Linked DNA regions of Homo sapiens. The protein of the gene in region 1 interacts with the protein of each later gene in a biochemical or structural test. Each region holds a gene or a part of one and is shown in the gene's direction. Other genes may lie near its edges.

The links.
Region 2: the proteins of GRID2IP (region 1) and TMEM225B interact in a test that uses a peptide from one of them, tested with the Homo sapiens proteins (one large-scale study listed by IntAct).
Region 3: the proteins of GRID2IP (region 1) and MAP7D2 interact in a test that uses a peptide from one of them, tested with the Homo sapiens proteins (one large-scale study listed by IntAct).
Region 4: the proteins of GRID2IP (region 1) and MAS1 interact in a test that uses a peptide from one of them, tested with the Homo sapiens proteins (one large-scale study listed by IntAct).
Region 5: the proteins of GRID2IP (region 1) and IQSEC2 interact in a test that uses a peptide from one of them, tested with the Homo sapiens proteins (one large-scale study listed by IntAct).
Region 6: the proteins of GRID2IP (region 1) and SHROOM4 interact in a test that uses a peptide from one of them, tested with the Homo sapiens proteins (one large-scale study listed by IntAct).
Region 7: the proteins of GRID2IP (region 1) and CTNND2 interact in a test that uses a peptide from one of them, tested with the Homo sapiens proteins (one large-scale study listed by IntAct).

What each region holds. Positions count from the first base shown.
Region 1 is NC_000007.14:6,506,462-6,509,961, reverse strand, and holds part of GRID2IP (delphilin), read left to right. Parts: intron 1-648; coding exon 649-1,004; exon of another isoform or gene 1,005-1,056; intron 1,057-1,560; coding exon 1,561-1,977; intron 1,978-3,500.
Region 2 is NC_000007.14:99,596,972-99,601,066, forward strand, and holds the start of TMEM225B (transmembrane protein 225B), read left to right. Parts: upstream 1-1,295; 5' UTR 1,296-1,410; intron 1,411-1,632; exon of another isoform or gene 1,633-1,777; coding exon of another isoform or gene 1,778-1,831; intron 1,832-3,233; coding exon of another isoform or gene 3,234-3,314; intron 3,315-4,095.
Region 3 is NC_000023.11:20,006,213-20,008,907, reverse strand, and holds the end of MAP7D2 (MAP7 domain-containing protein 2), read left to right. Parts: intron 1-509; 3' UTR 510-2,195; downstream 2,196-2,695. UniProt on the Homo sapiens protein: Microtubule-stabilizing protein that plays a role in the control of cell motility and neurite outgrowth via direct binding to the microtubule. Acts as a critical cofactor for kinesin transport.
Region 4 is NC_000006.12:159,904,488-159,907,987, forward strand, and holds part of MAS1 (proto-oncogene Mas), read left to right. Parts: intron 1-2,432; 5' UTR 2,433-2,468; coding exon 2,469-3,446; 3' UTR 3,447-3,500. UniProt on the Homo sapiens protein: Receptor for angiotensin 1-7. Acts specifically as a functional antagonist of AGTR1 (angiotensin-2 type 1 receptor), although it up-regulates AGTR1 receptor levels.
Region 5 is NC_000023.11:53,314,851-53,318,350, reverse strand, and holds part of IQSEC2 (IQ motif and SEC7 domain-containing protein 2), read left to right. Parts: intron 1-3,500. UniProt on the Homo sapiens protein: Is a guanine nucleotide exchange factor for the ARF GTP-binding proteins.
Region 6 is NC_000023.11:50,590,695-50,594,194, reverse strand, and holds part of SHROOM4 (protein Shroom4), read left to right. Parts: 3' UTR 1-3,500. UniProt on the Homo sapiens protein: Probable regulator of cytoskeletal architecture that plays an important role in development. May regulate cellular and cytoskeletal architecture by modulating the spatial distribution of myosin II.
Region 7 is NC_000005.10:11,341,447-11,344,946, reverse strand, and holds part of CTNND2 (catenin delta-2), read left to right. Parts: intron 1-3,500. UniProt on the Homo sapiens protein: Has a critical role in neuronal development, particularly in the formation and/or maintenance of dendritic spines and synapses. Involved in the regulation of Wnt signaling.

The sequences.
Region 1 (3,500 bases):
AACTCCTCAAGAGGCTGAGGCGGGAGGATCACTTGAGCCCAGGAGTTCAAGGCTGCAGTGAGCTATTTCGAACCACTGCACTCTAGCCTATAAGCAACAGAGTAAGACCCTGTCTTAAAAAAGAAAAAGAAAGAAGGCAGATGCCTGATTCTGAGGAAGTCCCCGAGTTAGCAAGTGGTTATTGGATAAATGATCAAGTGCAACGCGTTGTACCAGCGTTGGCACAGCTGGGAAGACAGTTGCTCTGCAGCTCAGAAGGCAGGAGCCCTGGGAGGCCCTCCTGTGATCTCAGGGCTTGCTGGGTGCGCGAGACGCTCCATGACTGTGGCTCTGGGCCCTAGAGAAACCCCTCCACCCTTTGAGTTAATGGTGTTCAGTGGCTCCCAGCTGGGACCCCTGGTGACCATTCCAAGGTGAGCTGGCGTCCAGCCTGTCCTGAGGCCGAGCAGTGCTCCTGCTCACCAGATCTGGCCTTTAGTCATGCTTGGAAGGCAGGGCCGCTCAAGGTCTTCCTGCACTGTGCCCAGAGAGGGAAAGGAGAGTGGCCTGGGACACAGAGCCAGTCTGTCCTAGGACCCTCTCTCCAGCTTGCACCTGGAACCTCGGTGCTGGCTGAAGAGGAATCCTCATACTCCATCCCTCCTCCAGGGCCCAGGACCCTGTCCGGCGTCTCATGGCCCAGCGAGCGACTCTTGCCCTCCCCCTGCTACCACCCGCTGTGTTCGGGGGGTCTGGCCTCCCCCAGCAGCTCTGAGTCCCACCCCTACGCCAGCCTGGACAGCAGCAGGGCACCCTCCCCACAGCCAGGCCCCGGGCCCATCTGCCCCGACAGCCCCCCAAGCCCGGACCCCACCCGCCCGCCCAGCCGCAGGAAGCTCTTCACCTTCTCCCACCCTGTGCGAAGCCGCGATACTGACCGCTTCCTGGACGTGCTGAGCGAGCAGCTGGGCCCCCGGGTCACCATCGTGGATGATTTCCTGACCCCGGAGAACGACTACGAGGAGGTGGGCACGCAAGCAGGTGTGGAGGGAGGCGGGTGAGGCGAGGTGTGGCGGTCTGCAAGGCAACAGTGTTCCTGGGCTCCCGCAAGGGGCCTGCTGCCCTTGGGATCTTCCCCAGGCTATCCCACTCCCTAGCTCAAGCTATCCCACCCCTTGCCCCAGGTTACCCTATCTCCTGTTCAAGGTTATCATGCTCCTTGACTGAGGCTAGCCCATATTCCCTGTCGCAGGTTAGCCCATTCCTTAGCTCAGGCTATCCCACTCACAGCCTGAGGCTAACCCGTGACAGGGTCCTGTCCTTATTCCAGGCTATCCCCCTCACAGCCTGAGGCTTACCCATGAGAGGGTCCTATCCTTAGCCCAGGCTATCCCCCTCACAGCCTGAGGTTAACCTGTGAGACAGTCCTATCCTTAGCCCAGGTGTCCCTCACAGCCTGAGGCTAACCCGTGAGATGGCCCTGTCCTTGTCCCAGGCTATCCCATGATCCTTCACTTTGCACCTGCTCTAGTCTCTCTGGGCCCAGCCTCACCCTCCCCTTGCCTCTCTCCCCACCACCAGATGAGCTTCCATGATGACCAGGGCAGCTTCGTAACCAATGAGCGGAGCAGCGCCAGCGACTGCATCAGCAGCAGTGAAGAAGGCAGCTCCCTGACCTACTCCTCCATCTCTGACCACATCCCCCCACCCCCGCTCAGCCCCCCACCACCGCCACCCCTGCCTTTCCATGACGCTAAGCCCAGCTCCCGCAGCTCTGATGGTTCCCGGGGCCCTGCTCAGGCGCTGGCCAAGCCCCTCACCCAACTCAGCCACCCAGTCCCTCCACCACCCCCACCGCCCCTGCCCCCACCCGTGCCCTGTGCACCCCCCATGCTGTCCCGGGGCCTGGGCCACCGGCGCAGTGAGACCAGCCACATGAGCGTCAAGCGCTTGCGGTGGGAACAGGTGGAGAACTCAGAAGGCACCATCTGGGGTCAGGTAGGTGACCTGGGACCCAGCAGCGCTCTGTACTGGGGGAGGATGGCTTGGGCAGCAGCACTGAAGGAAAACCCATCGGCCAGGCATCTTCCAACATCATCCTCCCTACCCCAAGCAGAGGATGAGTAGAGGCCCAGCCCAAGAACGTCCCCACGCTTGGGGGCCACTGCAGGCATTGAAGCCAATCTGTGTCCCTCAGCCAAAGACACACACTGGGGACACCTGGAAATGCCACCCTACCCATCCTTGAAACCTATCACTTTTGAGGCCAGACAAGTTCTCTTAAACCTTTAAAAGAGCAGCTGGTTCAAACTCCTGCACACCAGCCTTCACCCTTTCACTTTGATGCTTGAAGTTCCTCCCTCACAACACTGGCAGTGTATGCTTGAACACCTTCAGTGGTGGGGAACTCACTACCTGTCAAGGTCTTCCTTTCCTCACTGGACGATTTTAACCATCCTTTGTCTTGCTCTGAAATCTTGTCTCCCCAGGATTCCCATGCCCTGTTTTCTTTCTGGCCCTTAAAATCGGGCAGAGCAATCTTATCCACAGACCAACCAATCTGCAAGATGAACAAGGTTCACCCCACCCCTTTTTTTTTTTTTCAGATCATTCTCTTAGAACATGGTTTCCAACCCCCACTCCAGTGTCCATGTCCCTGTCAAAGAGACATTCCCAGATGGAACCCCCAATGGGGCTTGACCAGCTCAGAGGAGAGAACAGGGTTCTCAGCTCCTTTGACTGGGACATCATACTCCTTTTAATATGGCAGGGGCTCCTTCCAGCTCCCAGGGCTGCCCCGTCCCAGTGCTCATGATCACCATCATCCTCAACTCCATCTTCTTGGGATCAATAGCTCACTCTCACATGTAGTCACACTGGGCAGAGGCATGCTTGTGATTTTTCCCCACTGCCATCTCCTGGGTCCCAATTCTGTCTCCTGCTTTCTCAGCCCACATCTCCAGGGACCCTTTCCAAGTTGCTAATAAAGATGCCCATTGAGGCCAGGCTTGGTGGTTCACGCCTGTAATCCCAGCACTTTGGGAGGCTGAGGCGGGAGGACTGCTTGAGCCTAAGAGTTCAAGACAAGTCTGGGCAACATAGTGAGATCTTGTCTCTACAAAAAAATCAAAAAGTTAGCCAGACCTGGTGGTGCATGCCTGTGGTCCCAGCTACTCGGGAGGCTGAAGAGGGAGAATCACTTGATTCCCACAGGTGGAGGTTGCAGTGAGCCAAGATGGCACCACTGCACTCCAGCCTGGGGTACAGAGTGAGACCCTATCTAAAAAAAAAAAAAAAAAAATACCTCAGTGAGACAAGGGCACAAATAAGGACCTCCTGGGTCCCCTGGAGACCTCACTCCTGCCAGCCTTGGACCGATCTTCAAGTATTGCTCCACAGCGTGGTTCTTCCATTGGTTACCAAAGGTGGACACAGGGACACAGGTCACACATGTGGCCAAACCCAAATCCATCCTCAGTGTCCCTGCCCTGCAGCCATGTTCTAAGACTTCATTCCCCTGC
Region 2 (4,095 bases), about 93 Mb from region 1:
TTTTTAATATGATAGTGTTAACACTACATTACTAATATGTGTTAACACTATATTATTAATATAATAATGTTAATACTATTAACACTATATTATTAATATAATGGTGTTAGCACTATATTATTAATATAATAGTGTTAACACTATATTATTATTATTATTTGAGACAGAGTCTTGCTCTGTCGCCCAGGCTGGAGTGCAGTGGTGCCATCTCTGCTCACTGCAAGCTCCGCCTCCCAGGTTCACACCATTCTCCTGCCTCAGTCTCCCGAGTAACTGGGACTACAGGCGCCCCCACCACGCCCGGCTAATTTTTTGTATTTTTTAGTAGAGACGGGGTTTCACCGTGTTAGACAGGATGGTCTCGATCTTCTGACCTCGTGATCCGCCTGCCTTGGCCTCCCAAAGGACTGGGATTACAGGCGTGAGCCACCGCGCCCGGCCTAACACTATATTATGAAACACTATATTATTATTATAGTGTAGATACTATTACATTATTAATAGTGTTAACACTATTATCATTAATATAATAGTGTTAATACTATTAACACTTTATTATTATTAATTATAATATTAATATACGAGTGTTATTAATTATTAATATAATTATAATACTGTTAACACTATATTATTAACAATTATTATTAATATAATAGTGTTATTAATATAATATGTGTTAACACTATAATAGTGTTAACACTATATTATATTGTTAATATTATAGTGTTAACACTATTATATGATTAATAGTGTTAATCATGTATTATTAATATAGCAGTGTTAATAGTAACCCTATATTATTAATACAATAGTGTTAATGCTATTAACGCTATATTATTAATATAAGTGTTAACACTCAACACTATATTACTAATATAATAGTGTTAATAGTATATCATTAATATAATAGTGTTAATACTATTAACACCATATTATTAATACTATTATTATTCCCATTTTACAGATTAGAAGCCCAGGACCCAGGAAGGAGACACAGGAAATTTATTCAAAGTCCCCACGCTGGTAATGGCAGAGCTAGGATTTGAATTCAGATCCCTCCCGCTCTCTGTTCCTCCGCCCCCACACACCCGTGAGCGAAGCCGGTACTGTGGGCAGACGCCAGGGCCTGGTTTCCCCACCCTCCACCCGCCAGGTTTGCGGTGGCCGGGGCGGCAGGTAGGGAGGTGAGCCCGCGTCTCCTCCGCAGAGCTGGAGCTGGAGCTCCGCTCAGAGGCCCAGGCTCAGTGGGCTCCTCCCCCGGGTCGGGGCAACCCCCCGCCGGGGCCTCTGGGGCCAACGGAAGCTCCAGGAGCGCGGTGGAGCCTGGAGTGGAGGGCGAGGGTCCCACCGTGACCCGCCTGGAGGGCAGCCCAGCTCTGGGACGCGAAACCGCCTACGACGGTGCCGCAGGTGGAGGGAAGGGTAGAGGGGAGACCAGTATGGGGGAGAGCAAGGTGGCCCCACAGGTTGGGAGAGGATGTGGGGAAGTCCCCCTACCCACCCAAGGCCGAACATCGCCTAACTGGCTGTGGGACGCCCGGGGCAGGGGCTGGGGGCGGATGGCCTGGTTAGGGCCCAGCTTGGGGTCTTGAAAATATCCCTATGGCTTTGGGGCCACAGAAGGGCGGAGTCCTGGCATTCAGGGGAAAGGGCCGAGGACGGTTGTCAACGGGAAGGAACCTCTGACCCTACCCTGGGTCAATGTGCAGTCCAAGTTGCCACAAATGACCGGAGGAAACAGTGGGAAGGGAAGGTCTCTTTCCCATTCCAAACCAGGATGCCCTTCAGGTCGCCCACTTCCTTCATCCCCAGAGCAGCTGCCGACTTTCCTGTTAAGTGCCAGGGCCTGGGAGGTGCGGGGCTGCAGCTCAGGCGCTGAAGGGGGCCTAGGGTCCAGGAACCTCCTGCCAAGCCAGTGGTCCTCAGACGCTGGTCCAGGCACCACCACGGGGTACACAGCTTTTCTTACCTCCTGGTGTTATGGGTCCTTTCTGTTTTTTGAGACGGAGTCTCGCTGTGGCTGTGTCGCCCAGGCTGGAGTGCAGTGGCACGATCTCGCCTCACTGCAAGCTCCGCCTCCCGGGTTCACGCCATTCTCCTGCCTCAGCCTCCTGAGTAGCTGGGACTACAGGCGCCCCCACCACGCCTGGCTAATTTTTTTTTTTTTTTTTTTTTTTGTATTTTTAGTAGAGACGGGGTTTCACCGTGTTAGCTAGGATGGTCTCGATCTCCTGATCTCGTGATCCACCTGCCTCGGCCTCCCAAAGTGCTGGGATTACAGGCGTGAGCCACCGCACCCGGCCCATGGGTCCTTTAAAAAATAATAATTTGGCCAGACGTGGGGCCTCATGCCTGTAATTTCAGCACTTTGGGAGGTAAAGGTGGGAGGATCACTTGAGCCCAGGGGTTGCCTGGGCAACATAGCAAGACCCCATCTCAAAAAAAAAATTAGCCAGGTGTAATGGCATACACCTGTAGTCCCAGCTACTCGGGAGGCTGAGGCAGGAGGATCGCTTGTGCCCAGGAGGCATGAATGCACCACTGCACTCCAGCCTGGGTGACACAAGACCCTGTCTCAAAAAAGAACAACAACAAAAATTTGAATAAAAACCAAACCAGTGACAGTAGATAAGTTGCTTTGTTTTTAATGCTCTTGGCAAAATAAAAAGTTGGCAGTCGTATATTCCCCCATTCTCTCTCTCTTTCTCACACATGCACATGCCTATAAGAAAGCATTCTCTGGATCCACAGAATTCCAGATTTGGGAATCACTGAATTGAACTGCCGGCCATTGGTGGCTGGTGAGACTGTCCTGGCAGTGATGCAGTATTCTGGTCCCTGTGCCAGCACTGATGGGCTGTGGAATCCTCCACCAGTCATTCCCTCTCTCCAGCTCTCCATCTCTGCTTCTGTACAAAAGGATCTACCAATCCCCTCTTATATTCAAATATCTATGACCTTTCAGTCTGGCCTATATCCGTGCGGATCTGAAGTTGTGTATCCGAAGATGTAACCTTGTCCAGTGCTGGCACTAAGGGCTGCTTCAGGGAGGGACCTGGACTGGTGCCCAGGGAAAGGAGGACAAGGTCCTCATCACTGGAGAGTGGAGGGGGCAGTGGGAATGGGACAGATAAGGGGTAGTGCCCTGGGGTATACCTGGCCCCAAAGTAACCCCGGGCTGTGAAGACAAAAGCACTGCATCACATGATGTGTTTCTGTGTCTCTCTCCCTAGCAGTTCCAAGAGCCTCTGAGTTCCTGCCTTTTTTCATCTCTGAATCCCCACCATTGGCCTACATTGGGAGTGGGGCGACCTGTAAGTGCACAGTGAATTTTTGCTGAGGGAGTGGCTGGGAGGGCTGCGTGGAGTGGACAGCACCAAGCTGCACTTTTCAGGGGAGTGGGGTTTGGAAAATCTGGGGAGCAGAACAGGCACCCCCGCCCCCAGGAAGGAACCCAGGTGTATTAGTCTGTTCTCATGCTGCTAATAAAGACATACCCAAGACTGGGTAACTTATAAAGGAAATAGGTTTAATTGACTCGCACCACATGGCTGCAGAGGCCTCACAATCATGGCTGAAGGCGAATGAAGAGCAGAGTCACATCTTTCATGGTGGCTGGCAGGAGAGAGCTTGAGCAGGGGAACTTCCACTTATAAAACCATCAGATCTTGTGAGACTTATTCACTACCACGAGAACCGTATGGGGGAAACTGCCCCCGTGATTCAATTATCTCCACCTGGCCCTGCTCTTGACACATGGGGATTATTACAATGCAAGGTGAGATTTGGGTGGGGACACAGCCAAACCAAATCACCAGGTACAGAGGCCAGAGGAGCCTGGGGATGACGGTGATGTTCCAGGTGTGGAGGGAGACGTGGCAGGCGTGGGGACAGGAAGGTTGGAAGGTTGGGGAACTTTATGAAGGGAAAACTGAGAAGATGAGGAAGGCTGATGAGATGGAAGTGGGGTTGGGGAGAGGGAAGAACCAGCATGAGCTCAAGGCTAGGGTTTGGGTGAAGGAGAGAAAAAAAGGTAGAAAATAAAGGAGACAGAGATCACTTCTAGTCACATACAGGTGGAGATGGGGTAGACAG
Region 3 (2,695 bases), on another chromosome or scaffold:
ATTTATTAGAGTATTCATAGGTCCTCAAATTTATTTCTTACATCTCTAAAAGAAATGCAAAACCCCTGTCCAAAAAGAAAAATCTCAAATTATTTTATTCACACTGCTTGTATATTTTTAATTATGATTGGGTCTAGTTCTCAAATTCTTCTCTACCAAAAGTGGTACCACCCCCACCAGGAGACGTTTGGACATACGTTGATGGTTTTTGTTGCCAGAGTGGCTGGGGGCATTTGAAAGACAAAGCTTGAGACATTAAATATCTGCAGGTTTTAGAAAAGTTCCATACAAGGAAAATTTGACCCATCTAAAAGAATAGTCCTATGTAAAATACTCTATCACTTCTGTTGAGAAATACTGTATAAGCCCAGGAGGAAAATATAATTGCCAAGAAGGTAGAAAGTGCCACAGTGTGTTGTGATCGTTTTAGTGAGAGAATAGTGCTACAAACTGCACAATACTTGGTTTTCCCTTTGATCTCATCTGGTTTTGTTTCTGAATTGACACAGGTGTTTGGAGAACCCGTAAAGCTGCTGATAGTCAAATCCGAGCTACTAGCTGCTTGAAGAAGCTTCTGTCACCCTTACCGCTGGATCCCAAATTATTAGCTCGGAATGTAACTGTATTCCTAGGTAGTATGTCAAACACTGGCCACTCTTGGTAGAAACCTTGAAACTTTCACCTTGCTGGGCTTTAGCAAAGTTTCCTTTTACAGTTCTGTTTATGAGCTTCAGCTACTGATAAAGCACTTCCTGAACTTCTCTATTATCATAGTGACCCTCTGAATAACCTGAGTGACTGGCTCGGCAATTCGCTTTATAACCATTCTTATTCCCAAAGTTGGAGCACATAAACATTTAGATGTCTTTTCCTGTAAAATATTCTAGACATTTACCCAAACTCTAGTTCAACATATACTCAACTTGCACTGTATATCTCCCTGTCTTTTTTGAGACAGAGAAGAAATTCAGGAGGTTCCCCATCTCCAGAGTTTCTCTGTTGGAAAGCAGTATCAAGAAGCCTTTAAAAAATTGTTGTTAAGCTTTGCCACCTGCAGAAATGCATTGCCCCACATTATTCTTCTGGGGTTAAAGTAGTAAGTTTGGTTGAGGAAGGAAGTCAAAACAGTCAGTAATGATTTCTGTTCTCTTATGCATATTCGTGTATACATGGGCAACTGAATCTAGCAAGGACTCTTTCGTGTCACACCTTAAAATCTTCATGCTGTAGTCACTCCAGACCATGGAGTGGCTTTCCAGCTGAATGAATCCTATGTCTCGCGTGCAGGTGGTTGGTTTTCAATGTTCTTGCTAATTTTTTTTCTATTGGATCTTGGGAGTTTTCTTTGTTTGCTCCTGTGTTTGCCCAGCTTTAATAAAACCAGGCGCAAACAAAAACCATAGCATTCTGAAACAATAGGGGGCCCACATTGGACCCAGTATGTCACTTTAATGGACTTCAAGAAAAAATCTGAATGGGAAAAATGACACTAGAATGTATACTCCACACATTTTATGCCATATAATGGTGTGTTTTCTTAATTTTGTTTCTTGTGGCGAAATGTGGCTTTCAAATTAAAATGACCTTTTCTTCTTTGAAACTTTTTGTTTTGACTTGTATAATTAAGGGTTTGGAAAGATTCATAATTCTGAGAGAGGTTTGCAACCAGGAGATACAAAGAAGTCTCAGTAGTAATCTTGTTCATGTGCTTTTACAGCCAGCTACATTTAAGAATGTATTAGTTACAGAAATTATATGTCTGTGTATGTGTCTCTACTCAATAAAGTACATGCCTCCACATAATGCGGTGCTGTCCATCTCGGCAAATACTGGCCAAGTCCCTTTATGACAGGCACACAGAAACCATAGCATGGTCTGGCTTTCAGAAAATGCCTCTCATCTTTCCTGGAACCTTATTTTGCTAAATGTCTGTTTTCTTGTGATTTGTTGTACCTCACAGCACCATTGTGACCATGGTGATGCCTCATTTGCATGATATGTACCTTGTGTTTAATGTGAAATACATTTTCATTGAAGAGTCTGATGACTTGCTAGCGTTTTATTTTTTCTGTAAGCTCAATGTGCTGAAACCAAACCAGGCTTTTAAAAACCTGTGTAGAAGAAAACCAAAAAATCCTGTGTGGGTGTCCTTTCCCTGTCAAACTCATTAAAAATTCCTTTGTTGCCAGTGCCAAGTGGAGTCAACTGCATAAAGCTTCTTAAGTGATGACTGTCACTAGAACACAATGGACTTCTGAGTATAGTAAAAAAAAAGTTGCTGTTCTTTCCTTTTTTTTTTTTTTTGGAGAGACAAGGTCTCACCATGTTGCTGAAGCTGGTCTCCTAGGCTCAAGTGATCAATCCTCCTGCCTCAGCCTCCCAAAGTTCTGGAATTATAGGCATGAGCCACGACGCCCAGCCAAGTTCCTGTACTTTCATACCACTGGTGTGAGGGCTTTCTAGCTAAGATACAGTTAACCTTACCATAATCTATGATAACATTGCACATAGCAATTTGGCATTTAAATAAAGTTATAATGGGAATGTTGACCCTTATTTTCAGGTAAGTTGAAACCCAGACCAGTTTTTTTTGTTTGCTTGTTTGTTTTTTAATGTCTAACTCACAGGCTTTCCACTGCCTGGAGACAGTACCAGGCCAGACCAGAAGCCAGGTGGGCAGGACTGGAATTAGAGA
Region 4 (3,500 bases), on another chromosome or scaffold:
CGTCAGTGAATCAAATCGAAGACCTCCCACCAGATAGTACTACCTCTGCCACAACCTGATTTATGCTAACATCCTCCCTGTGTCTAGGCCAGTGCCTTCACCTCCCACCTGACCTCCTCCTTCCTGCCATGGCCCCTAGAGTGTCACCTGAACACAGGGGCCATACCGAGGCTGTTCACGCCTCAGTCCCCCAAGTTAACCACATTCCTCCTCTCAGAACCTCCTGTGGTTTATTATCTCACTGGGGGTAAAAGCACCAGCCCACAAAGCCCGTTTGGACCTGGTCGCCAAAGACCCCTGCCTTCAGCACCTGACTGTTCTCCTTGCCGGGCCGTTCCTGCCTTGCTGGCCTTTCTGCGGTTCTTCACTCCTGGCTGCCTCCTGCTTCTGGAACTTCGAACTTGCTGTTTCTTTTGCCTGGAATACTTTTCCCCCAAGAACCTGCTGGCCTCGGTCGCCTATTTCCTTCATGTCTTTGCCCAAGTGTGACCTCATGAGTGAGACGTTTCCCATCACACTATGGACGATGGAACCCCCAGGTCCCTGCCACTCCTTTCCTTTAATGATGCTTTACTTTTTTCCATAGAACTGTTCACGCACTGACATCAGTTTGATTGTTGTTGCTGTTATTGTATTTTGCTTGACTGCCTCCCTACTGGGATACAGACTCCACCAGGCCGGCACTTTGTTTTATTTACTGCCATGTCCCAGTGCCTAGCACAGTGCCTGGCATGGGCTAAATGTGTGGGGGGAGAATTTGGGGAACATGGTGGTCTTACTTGCAAACTTCTAACAAGGCCTGGTCTCTACAGCAGGGCTTTGGTTAGGCATGACAGGGCATGCGAGCTCTCATCCTGTGTGGGTTCTTTTCCGGGTCTCTGTCTACTAATTATGAAGTAAAAGGAAGCTCTCCTCCAGTGAAAGTAATTTCCTGCATCCCATTAGAACAGCTGAGGGAAGTGTCAATGGGATAGGTGTGATTGGGACCACGGAGGCAGTGTCCTCCTGGGTGCCTGGATCACATCGCTGGAAGGAAACACCTGTTTCACCAACCCAAAGGCTACCTGCTGGTCCAGGGTCCAGGCCCGGCTGTACTGAGATCACAGCTCAGGGCCCTGCACATGCTGGGGCTCTGCTGACTTGATTCTAGAAATGTCTAATATCACCAGAACCATTCAAGTGCCACGAAATAACACATTTATGTATTATTCTGCTTCAGGTGAGCTCAGGAGGAAAAGACAGATATCTATTCACTAAAAATATTCTTTTGATTGGCCGGCACGGTGGCTTACACCTGTAATCCCAGCACTTTGGGAGGCTGAGGCAGGTGGATCACCTGAGGTCGGGAGTTCAAGACCAGCCTCACCAACATGGTGAAACCCCGTCTCTACTAAAATACAAAAAATTAGCCAGGCATTGTGGCACGCGCCTGTAGTCCCAGCTACTCAGGAAGCTGAGGCAGGAGAATCGCTTGAACCTGGGAGGCGGAGGTTGCAGTGAGCTAACATCTCACCACTGCACTCCAGCCTGGTGACAGAGCAAGTCTCTGTCTCAAAAAAAAAAAAGTTATTTTGATCAACTTCTTATGGACAAAGTTCAGAAAGCAAAGAACAATGTTTTACTACATACACATACACATGCATGCACACAAACTAGAAAAAAAAATTTTTTTGAGTGCTTTGTCTGGCATCTGGCGATGGTGTTTCCCGCACCATCTGGCCTGTGGTCTGTGGGGACGTACATACGTCTTGTTAGGGCTCTCCATCCAGTCCACACATCAATGGCTTGCCTGGCTTACGTAGTCTGAGCAGGTGCCCAGCTTTGTCGCAGATATTGAAGCCGTGTAAAATAAATGCCTTTTGATTGTTCACACTTTAAGCAATATTGGTACAATATTAAACCCATTGTCCCAGGCACTCCCTCTCCTTACTGCTTATGGCACTTCATGTATTAAAAAATGACAGTGGCAGCATTGCCCAGACATGCGTTTTGTCATCAAGTCTTAATGCAGTCCACCTGGTCCCTCAGGCAAATGAATGGAGGCACAGAAGATGAAATGATTTTCAAAATGCCATTAGGAAAGCTCAGGCCAGAACTGGAAATGGGTCCCGCACAGGGCACTCGGCCACTCTTGCCTGGCCATCTCCTTTTTGGCACTAAGCCACAAGCACACAATGATATAGAATGAATGGTTATCACTGGGGATCCAGAAGGGTCATTCAATCAGTTCTCAGTCTTATCAGGTCTAAGTTCCTTTCTTATCAGGTCCTAAAGGCCTAATCTTATCATTGTGACAAAGATAACTGTAGAGTCTGTTAAACTTTTTTTTAATAACATGAAGATTATGATTTATAGCTGAATTTCTCCCTTTTATTCCAATTCAACAATTTTCATGGCTTTTTGTGTTTGTTTTGTTCTGGACATATTTACAGAAAATTACCTGAAGAGTTCCAACCTGAGGCCTCCTCATGGATGGGTCAAACGTGACATCATTTGTTGTTGAGGAACCCACGAACATCTCAACTGGCAGGAACGCCTCAGTCGGGAATGCACATCGGCAAATCCCCATCGTGCACTGGGTCATTATGAGCATCTCCCCAGTGGGGTTTGTTGAGAATGGGATTCTCCTCTGGTTCCTGTGCTTCCGGATGAGAAGAAATCCCTTCACTGTCTACATCACCCACCTGTCTATCGCAGACATCTCACTGCTCTTCTGTATTTTCATCTTGTCTATCGACTATGCTTTAGATTATGAGCTTTCTTCTGGCCATTACTACACAATTGTCACATTATCAGTGACTTTTCTGTTTGGCTACAACACGGGCCTCTATCTGCTGACGGCCATTAGTGTGGAGAGGTGCCTGTCAGTCCTTTACCCCATCTGGTACCGATGCCATCGCCCCAAGTACCAGTCGGCATTGGTCTGTGCCCTTCTGTGGGCTCTTTCTTGCTTGGTGACCACCATGGAGTATGTCATGTGCATCGACAGAGAAGAAGAGAGTCACTCTCGGAATGACTGCCGAGCAGTCATCATCTTTATAGCCATCCTGAGCTTCCTGGTCTTCACGCCCCTCATGCTGGTGTCCAGCACCATCTTGGTCGTGAAGATCCGGAAGAACACGTGGGCTTCCCATTCCTCCAAGCTTTACATAGTCATCATGGTCACCATCATTATATTCCTCATCTTCGCTATGCCCATGAGACTCCTTTACCTGCTGTACTATGAGTATTGGTCGACCTTTGGGAACCTACACCACATTTCCCTGCTCTTCTCCACAATCAACAGTAGCGCCAACCCTTTCATTTACTTCTTTGTGGGAAGCAGTAAGAAGAAGAGATTCAAGGAGTCCTTAAAAGTTGTTCTGACCAGGGCTTTCAAAGATGAAATGCAACCTCGGCGCCAGAAAGACAATTGTAATACGGTCACAGTTGAGACTGTCGTCTAAGAACTGTGAGGGAAGTTGTGGATAAAAATGGTGGAACACAGGTCATTTTTAGTT
Region 5 (3,500 bases), on another chromosome or scaffold:
GCGTTTCCTTGCTTTGCATTTCCTACTGGATTAATAAAGGGGTTTAGGTAGTACTTTAAGTTTCTCTCCTGACCATATATTAACTATTTGCACACCCATTATTACCTCTTTTTGACTTCACAACAAGCCTTCTGCAGTGAGTGTTGGCAACTGCATTTTAGAGATGGGGAAACTGAGGCTCCAAGATGAAGGGACCTCACTCAAGGTTACCCTACTAGTTGCTAATGGAGCTGGGACTAGAACCCAAGTCTTCCTGTCTCCAAGGCCTGGTATTTTTTTCTCTAGAGCTCTCCAACCCACAGGAGTCTCTTAGCCTCAGGACCTGGCCTGGCACTGAGCTAGGAGAGGCCAGGAGAGCCTTAGGTCTCTAGAGGATTTGAGCAGGAGGAGATGAGTCTGGGATGAGTGGGGAGTTGACAGCGGCAGGGAAGAAGGCTCTGTCTCCCTCCTTTCCACTCTCCCTCCTGGCCTGGCATCAGGAGGGCCTGTTGATGCAGTAGCCATTGCTGTCACTGCTGCTGCTGCAAGCGACTCCCCTGCTAGGTCTGTTCTGGGTTTGTAAGGAGTGGGTGAGAAGCCGCTGGAAGCGAGGGCAGGCAGGGTGGGAGTTTAGCAGCAGAGGCTGCAGCATTGGGGGAGGCTAGGTAGAGCGGGTACAGGCTGGGCTCTCTTGGTCCCCAGGCTCCCCCTGGTGGAGGAAGAGGGGAGAGTGGTGCCTGGGCCGAGCTGCAGCTTGTTGGGGGGGCCCCGCTGTGCCTAGGGACTTTCTTTAGTCCTCCCAATGATCCCGTGCTTCTGTCACCACGATCCACATTTTACAGCAGAAGAAACTGGGGGATCAGAGAAGTGAAGCCCACCAGAGCTTACATTACTCATAAGACAGACTCCCAATCCTGTGAACTTTCCCTCTACTGCATTGGACATCAGCTGTCATGTCCACCCCCATCCATGTCATCCACCCAGGATTCCCATATCCTCCTGCACCGTCCCCTCTGGACAGGTTCCAGGATGCCAGTATCCCTTCTGCTGTGCTCAGGGTGTGGCCTTTCTAGTGCAGATAGAGTGAGATGCGTCCCTGTCTCCTTTTGGTCCTGGGTCCTCTGTACGCGAAGGTTTTGTTTGCTTGCTTTTTAGTCGTTGGTCCTGACTAATGCTCAGGTCTTTTTACCTGGAATTGTCCACATACCCCCCCAAGCCTGGTTGATTAGAGAATAGCTCTGCTTTTGTTGTTGATCTTGGCTTGGCCCCCTTGCAGTCCTGCCACCTAGAGTGATATATAGGAGTGCTAGGGGCCCCTGCTGAGTTGCTCCACGCTGAAGAGCTGCGTTTCCCACGCTCTTTGCATGGGCCCAGCTCCGGCTCTGCTGTAGGCGGTGGTGGGCTGAAGCTGGTATGGTGGCAACTCTCCTTCCTTTACCCCCACCCCCATCCACCCTGCAAGCTGGCTTACACTTGGAGATAGCAACTAGAGGGGCTGGCCTGGTGGTGTTTTTTTTCTTTTTCTTTTTTTTTTTTTTTTGGTTTTGGTTTGTTTTTGGGACAGGGGTCTTGCTCTGCTGCTCAGGCTGGAGTGCAGTGTTGCGAACATAGCTTACTCAAGTGAGTTCAGGAGTTTGAGGCTGCAGTGAGCAATAATTGCAAAAAAGGAACACCAGGCTGGCCCTTCTAGTTGCTATCCGCCCAATTCTTTTAAGCAGAGACGGGGTCTCTCTGTGTTGCCCAGACTGGTCTCAAACTCCTGGGCTCAAGCGGTCCTCCCTCCTTGGCGTCCCAAAGTGCTGAGCCACCACGCCCGGCCCAACGTGGTATTCTTGACAGCTAGGGCAGTGTATGGTCTACCACATGCTGTCGTCTGCTTGCAGTGGGATGTCAGCATGCTCCCCGCAGGGGCTAAGGCCACTGAGAGACAGCACGTGAGACAGTGAGCCCAGGGAGAGGCTCAGGGAAGTCTCTCCTTTGGGGTCTTGGGTACTTTTCCCAGGGGGTGTCTCTCCTTCCCAGGAGGGAAAACCATTTATCTTCCCTCCCACTGTGTTGTGAGCATTATCTTCGTGTGGGAGGAAATGGTAATGTTGAATTTAATGAGAATGAGAGTCTTGCTTCTCTATCTAGATCTGGGGCAAGAATGGGGTTGTTATCATCTACAAACATTTCTTGGCTGTGTGCACAGCGCAGGAGGGGCCACGAGGCTGAGCAAACACTGCACTCTTAGCGCTTGCAGAACCCCTGCTCCCCTCCATCCAGGGAGACAGGGTTGCAGGCCTAGCCATGCCATAGAGGCAACACTCAGGACAAAATGAGTGGCAAGAATGGTGAGGAGTGGAAGTTCTCAGAGGAAGGAGGGATCAGGCCAGGCCAGGCTGCTGTTTGAGTACCTGGGCGGTGGGTGAGGGATGAGGGGTATGGAAGGAATGTGAGTGGTCCCTTCATGGAGGTGGCAGCTGGGAGGAAGACGTCAGACCAGACTTGCTGCCTGCCCTTTCCTCATCTGTCCCACCCCTGCCTACCAAGGTCTCTGAATTTGCTGGGCGCAGAGTAAAGGCCTGGAGCATGGGGAAGAGGCCACACGTGTACCGAGTGAGTCTCAGCCTTCTGCCAGGCCCCACGCTATGTGACTTTATGTAATAATAGCTAACATTTTTTCACTGCTCTTACTGTGTGCTAAGCACTATTTGTTCTAAGCGCTTTCCATGTATTAATTCATTCAATCTCCACATGAATCCTCTCGTGTAGATATTGTTATTAACTCCATTTTACAGATGAGGAAACTGAGGCCCAGAAAGGTTGGATAGCATACCCAGGATCACTCAATGAATAAGTGGCAGAACTGTGAAGGAGCTGGAGGAGCCCAGGGAGTTGGGCTTCAGGGTCCGCAGTGTTCTAACCCACCCTGGAGCACTACTTCTTACCTCATTTGCACAGAGCCCCTGTCAGATGGGTGTGTTCGTTTGTTTGTTTGTTTTATGAGTTTCACTCTTGTTGCCCAGACTGAAGTGCAATGGCACACTCTTGACTCACTGCAACCTCCACCTCCTGGGCTCAAGCAATTCTCATGCCTCAGCTTCCCGAGTAGCTGGGATTACAAACACGTGCCACCACCCCCGACTAATTTTTGTATTTTTAGTAGAGACGGGGTTTCACCATGTTGGTCAGGCTGGTCTCGAACTCCTGACCTCAGGTGATCCGCCCACCTCTGCCTCCCAAAGTGCTGGGATTACAGGCATGAGCCACTGCGCCCAGCCTATTATCTTCATTTTTTCAGACAAGGAAACAAGGATCAGAGAGGTACAGTGACCTGCCCGAGGTTATTCAGGCAGATGGAGCCCAGAACTGTCTGGCTTCCAAACCTATGGTACACCGCTGCCTCCCGCAGGTGGGCTTTAAAGACATCAGAGCTACTCCAGGTATGTGGCTCTAGCTTCCTCCAACAGAGCTCCCAGGACCCCTGCTCTAGGCAGGCTCCCTCTCACCATCACCCCCTGAATTTTGGCCATGGTCTC
Region 6 (3,500 bases), on another chromosome or scaffold:
CCTGTTCTCAGTTCCTGGGCTCAGCCCTCCTCCAAGGCCTGCCAGTGAGTAGCAGTTTGGAAGGCAGGCCAAGGGAGATCCCCAAAGACAGTTATCAGTCTTAACTTCTGCTGTCTCCCGTCAAATACTTATACAGGCCCCCATGGGTAATAGGCAAGCATGATGGCTGATAGAGAAGTCAGTGCATGAGTTACTATCACATGTCCCCCCAACCCCTCCTGCCACCTCCCAGGGCTCTGGATAATTGAATCTTCCTGAGTCCCACAGCTGGAGACTCAACCAGGATATAGCTGTAAATGCCCAAGTAGAATCTGACAGAATAAGACAGAGACACTGAAAATAAAGCCCTAGAAAGGAAGAAATTGGAAGCAAAGAAAAGGAGAGGTGAAAAGATAAAAAGCCTCCTTCAAGGTTAGGTTCAGGTTCTGTTTTCCATTTAACCTCATGTGCCATAAAGCTGCCCAGGCACACCAGAGCCACATCCTGAACCCGACCCTCCCTGACAGTGCTGCTCTGCCAGTAGCAAGCCCCAGATGGAGGAAGCTGGGCCCATTTCTGGCCACTTCCACCCATTTGGAGCTTTGCCAGAGGAGTCGTCTATGCCAATAATATTTCTGCAACAGCATATTATATTATTTGAAGATTAGTAGATCTTTTTGGGGGGGTGGGGCAGGGGACAGTTTCTATAGATGAAGAACCAGTGTTGGTTGTACAGCTGTTGGGGGTCATCTATCCCATGTGAAGCTATTCTTTTTCCAAATCTTGTTGTTTCTGCATTTGTGTCCTCCACCACTCCCTTCTTGGCTGACATAGATATGCCTGCCAGATTGTCATCAAGGGTCATATTTCAATAAAAGGTGCTAAGGACAAAAAAAAATCTCATGTGTTTTAACTCAGGTGATGGAAGTCTAAAGATTCTGCTGAAAAGTACTGGAAAGGAATTTGGTCACCTATCCATAGTCCTTCACAGATAAACATATGACCAGACCCTTACCCACATCCCTAAACCCTTACCCTGGCCTCTGAGGGATGGTATTGATGCTATACCATTCATCATCCCCAGTTAAATAGCAGGATCTGCCATAGCCTTTTTAGGGGAACAGCTTTTAGACATCTATTTCAAGACCATCCTGAGTAGGGGGTACAGAGTTTAAGCCATTGGTTATTTCTGTTGTTATCACAGTATTGAAGCATGGTATTTTTCTACTCAGAAGGATCTCAGGATCACAGCCCTGCCCTTTAGCTCACTGATATATTTCTTCCTCTCTGGTTACTCAGTGGCAACATCACATCCAGTCTAACCCCATGTTTAGAATGCAGAAAAAGTCAACAATAGGTGTAATCTCAGGTATAGACCTAAGCAGTATACAGAGTCTAGTTCTGGAGTCTAGCCTGATCGAAGGTAAGCCATTCTTTCTAGACTTCTTCCAATCTTGAATTCTGTCTAGTATTTTCATCTTACTTCTAGCTGATAGTCCAATCTCACACCTTCATGCTCAGCTCCCTGGAAAGCAAGGGCCTTGGTGATCTGCTCTCCAAGGCAACCTCAAAGATTAGACTCAAATGTATTCCAGGAAGCAACTCTGACATTGAAAAGCTTTCTTTTTTCGTGATCCATATTCTGTTCACATTCCAACTATCCTCCTTCTACTCAAGATATCCATTGTGGTAGAGTAGAAAGAGTCCAGCTTTGGCATTAGAATGAACTGTGTTCAAATCCTGGTTCTGCCACTTATTCAATGAACCTGGGCTACTAGCTCAACTTCTGAGGTCATTTTCTTATCTGTAAAATGGGAACAGTATTATCTTGCTTGCAGTTATTGTAACTTGAAAATAATAAATAAAAGCCACTAACAATCCAAGAAGTTATTAGGCAGAATCCCAGGCCCACCCCAAACCCAGTGATAGCAGTCTGAATTTTAACTAGATTTCCAGGAGATTCATGAACATATTACAGCATGGGAAGTACTGACTTGTTGAAAACATATTCAGTACATGGTAACCATTATTATAGTCCTGATCTACTCAATTCATTTTTTCCTTATCCCAGGCATATTCTTGCTCTTCTCGTGTTGCTCACAACTACCTGCCTGGATGAATTTAGGAAAGTTGCAGGATACAAGGTTAAAACACAAGATCAAATGAACAATCCGAAAATGTTATTAAGAAAACAGTTCCGGCCGGGCATGGTGGCTCACGCCTGAAATCCCAGCACTTTGGGAGGCCGAGGCAGGTGGATCACGAGGTCAGGAGATCAAGACCATCCTGGCTAACACGGTGAAACCCTATCTCTACTAAAAATACAAAAAATTAGCCAGGTGTGGTGGCACGCACCAGTAGTCCCAGCTACTCGGGAGGCTGAGGCAGGAGAATTGCTTGAACCTGGAAGGCAGAGATTGCAGTGAGCTGAGACCACACCACTGCACTCCATCCTGGGCAACAGAGTGAGACTTTGTCTCAAAAAGAAAGAAAGAAAGAAAGAAAGAAAGAAAGAAAGAAAAGAAAGAAAGAAAGAAAGAAAGAAAACAGTTCCATTTACAATAGCATCAAAAAGAAAAAAGTACTTAGGAATAATTTAACAAAAGAAGTGCGAAACTTTTACACTGAAAACTATAAAACATTGTTGAAAGAGATTAGAGAAGATCAAAATAAATGGAAAGACACTCCATGTTCATGGATTGGAAGACTTAGTATTGTTAAGATGAAATGTGCCCCAAATTGATCTACAGATTCAATCCAGTGCTTATCAGAATTCCAGTGGCTTCCTTGTGTAAGTTTACAAGCTGATTCTAAAATTCATATGGAATTACAAGGGACCTGGAACAGTCAAAACAATCTTTAAAAAGAACAGTTGGAGGGCTCATACATCCCAACTTCAAAACTTACTGCAAAACTACAGTAATCAAGACAGTGTGGTACAGACACAAGGGTAGGTGTATAAATAAATGGAATTAAATTGAGAGTCCAGAAATAAATCCTCATGTATATGGTTAGTTAATTTCAACAAGGGTCCCAAGAGAAATTGAGGAGAGAATAGTTTTTTAACAAATGATGCTGAGACAACTGGGTATCTACATGGGAAAAAATGAAGTTTTCCTTAAATCACATGCAAGAATCAACTCAAAATGGATTATAGAATGTAAGAGTCAAAATTATAAAATTCTTAGAAGAAAACATTGTAATAAGTCTTCCTAATGTTAAGACGATTTGCACAAGTGATACAAGAAATAGAAATAAATTGGAGTAAATCAAAATTAAAAACTTTTGTGCTAAAAATATACCATATAAAAAAGTGAAAAGACAAGCAACATAATATTAGGAGAAAATATTTGCATATCAGATACTTCAAAATATGAAAAGGACTCTTACAACTCAATGATAAAAATAACCAATTAAAAATGGGTTAACAGATTGTAATAGACATTTCTTCAAAGAAAATATGTGTTTTAGTATGCTTGGGTTGCTATAACATACTACCATAGACTGATTGTCTTAAATAA
Region 7 (3,500 bases), on another chromosome or scaffold:
AATTTAGCTTAATAAGAAACCAAATTATATTTCTCTAGCTGTAGCATAGCTTCTGTATTTAATACTGTGTATTAAATGCATTTTATTTTATTAAATGGCGTATCCTTTCCATTTTATGTTACTGTCATTTTTACAGCCTTTTTTCTTCTCTCAATATATTGACACAGCTCTTACCTTTTCAAGTTATGGATTATGTCACTTATATTTATTGAGTGCCTGCTATAAACCAAAAAAGAAAAACACCAATAAGAAGGGTTAGAATGAATAAGAGAATATTGACCACTAAGCTTTTGTATGCGTCAAATTTGTATGCAGATTAGTGCTATATGAATTATAAGTTCATCCTGAGCTCAGACCCACAGACCCCCCAAAAAAAAGAAAAGAAAAGAAAAAACAAATCTAGAACCAGAACTGGACTATTGTGGTTTATTATAAAAGGGATTCATTATCTGGCATCATGCAAAATGTATGGAGCATAAAGTGTAGTAATATAATACCTTTCTTGTCGGGTTTTCTTAAAATTAAGGAATGTCTCAACATGTTTTTTTTTTTTTTGAGACGGAGTCTCGTTTTGTCGCCCAGGCTGGAGTGCTGTGGCGCGATCTCCGCTCACTGCAAGCTCCGCCTTCCGGGTTCACACCATTCTCCTGCCTCAGCCTCCCGAGTAGCTGGGACTACAGGCGCCCGCCACCGCGCCCGGCTAATTTTTTGTATTTTTAGTAGAGACGGGGTTTCACCGTGGTCTCGATCTCCTGACCTCGTGATCCACCCGCCTCGGCCTCCCAAAGTGCTGGGATTACAGGCGTGAGCCACCGCGCCCGGCAACATGTTTTTATTTAATGGAGAGACGTGCCAAATTTAAACTTCAGGTCCAAAATATAGTAATTCTTTTAAGACAAGATTTTTGCATTTTCCCTTAAATATTATAATTTGATTCCTCATAGGTGAATATTACCAGAACTAATATGTTTAACTTCTAGGGCTCACACTTATTTATTTTGGCGTTATGGCTTATTATTTAAATCTTTTCAATGTTTTCAAGCTTTTGAAATATATTTACATATATTTAAGAGAATTTGTTAACATTTTATTTACTGCCAAACACCAGGCTATGTAAGCCTCTTTATCATTATAAACATATGTTTATAGCACATTACAATCTTCAAAGTAGGCTTACTTACATCTTTGATGTAATCCTCCTTTGTGAGCAGAAACTGATATCCCATATTTAATGCCTTAAATAAATGCAGAATCAGAATGTTAAATGACTTCTTGAAAATGCATTGGTGCCAGGTGAGTGTGCGGACCTACATCTACATTGTTAGCACATATTGAATCCATACTGCAGCACATGTTGGCACGAACATTTTTATTTCTTTACAAAAAAGAAAAAGGAAAAAGAAAGAGTATATTTATGATTTTTTTTCAGAGGATGAATGGCAGTACCAGTATCTGTGTAGGAGTTGGGAAGAATGAAGGAAATTGTCTAAGTAGTTCTGGCATCCCTGATCGATTGCTTATTGGATGTGTGGTCTTTGTTATATTTTTCATTTCCGGCATCTACCTTATTTTTCTTATTGTAGACCAGTATCTCTTCTCTGTTAGAGAGTTTTAGTATTATTCAGTGAGAAGTGTTTAAGCAAATACTGCATTTTGAAATAATAATTTGAAGTCATGGCAGTTCCACTTCATCATTAGACTTGAAACCAGAGAAGCCATATTGACTTTCTGTGACTCTAAGTCATAGGATACAAAAGGATTGGTTCTGAGGGGTTGGGATTTTCTTGTTGATGGTTGGCTCAGTCATTTGGATTGTGGCAAAGCTTTGGTCTTTTCTCTTTTGACTAGTCATCCTATATGCCAACAGAAAACCCACAGAAATGTCTTATCCAATTTTCTTTGTAAAGCCAGCAGTCACTGAGATCATTTTTAAACCTGTAAAATTCCCTTTACAGCCCCATTTGCTAAGAAGATTTTATTTGTAATTGTATGTTATTTTCCATAAAATGTGAATCTCTTAAGGATTGTTATCATAGCTAATATATTTGTAGGTACTACACCAGCTATTGAGTTCTATATACTGTTGTTTTTAAACATGAAAGTCAAATATAACTCTTAAATTATATGAAAGAAGTGTCAGTCATGTTGGTAGTGATAAGTCACAAAAGCATTCTCATTTTGAAAATTTGATGATGAAACAAATGGAAAAAAACACAGCAAGACTGATATACCCAGATATACTAAGGGTATTATAACTGTCTTGTCTATCAAATAATAAAAGTCATGGTTAAGATATATTACTGACATAATGTGTAAATTGTAGCAGTAATAGCAACTTTTAATCGTGTTTGATTAATCCCTTTTTGAGATGTTGTAATCCTTGGTGTACACTATCTCGAAAGCAGTTTTTCAAACATGCTTAAAGAATCTCACTTTTTATGAATGTGATTTGCAATAGAACACTATCTTCTATTTTGTTATTCATCATAACAGGAATACATACAATGGCACATTTTTAATGCTGATGCTGGGCCCAAATTATAGCAGCTGCACTTTCAGTCGGCTCTATCAAACTCACTCCATGGATTTGTTCCGTTTCAAACCGCAAAATTTGACTAAGAGTATGACAATATGCACTTTTAAGGAATTATGTATACATTTCCACTATATTTTGTGTGCTGTTTCGAAATAGTAACAACATTTATCTTATTGTTGGACACTTTATTGTTAAATCTCATTAATGAATATTACTTATAAATATTTTACTACTAGGTAAACCTTGGTAAAGAATGTTTTCCAAATGCTGCTTTTTCTTTTTTTAACTGTTCACGACGCATGTGCACATGTGGACACACACACACACACCCACGCGCATGCATATATAGTGAATTGAAAGCTCAGGAAACAAAATATACTATAAAAATGCTTTTATTTTTTGAGACAAGGTTTTGCCCTGTCACCCAGGCTGGAGTGCAGTGGTGTGATCCTAGCTCATTGCAGGCTCAAACTTCCAGGCTCAAATGATCCTCCCACCTCAGCCTCCCAAGTAGGTGGGACTACAGGCTGGCCACAAGCCTGGTTAAATTGTTTTTATTATTTTTTTTAGAGAAGGGGTCTTGCTGTGCTGCCCAGGCTGGTCTTGAACTCCCTGACTCAAGTGATCCTCCTGCCTTGGCCTCCCATAGGGTTGGAGTTGCAAGCATGAGCTACAGTGCCTGGCATAAAAATGCTTTTAAAAAGATGAAGACTTGAAGAATATTTTTTAAATATTAAAGTTTAAACAGTATTATGTAACTTGTTACCATGTAACTCAAATAACATGGCTGAAATGTTTGCAGTAAACCACATATCATATTTTTCAGGGTCCAATTCTCTCAGGTGATGAATCTCTGGGTAGTTTGCTTTTAACTTCAAATGCTCACTAATTATTTATTTAACTGAGGAAATATCCAAGGGGAGAAATACTGGATTCACAACTTAAAGACTTCTGGAGTTTGAAG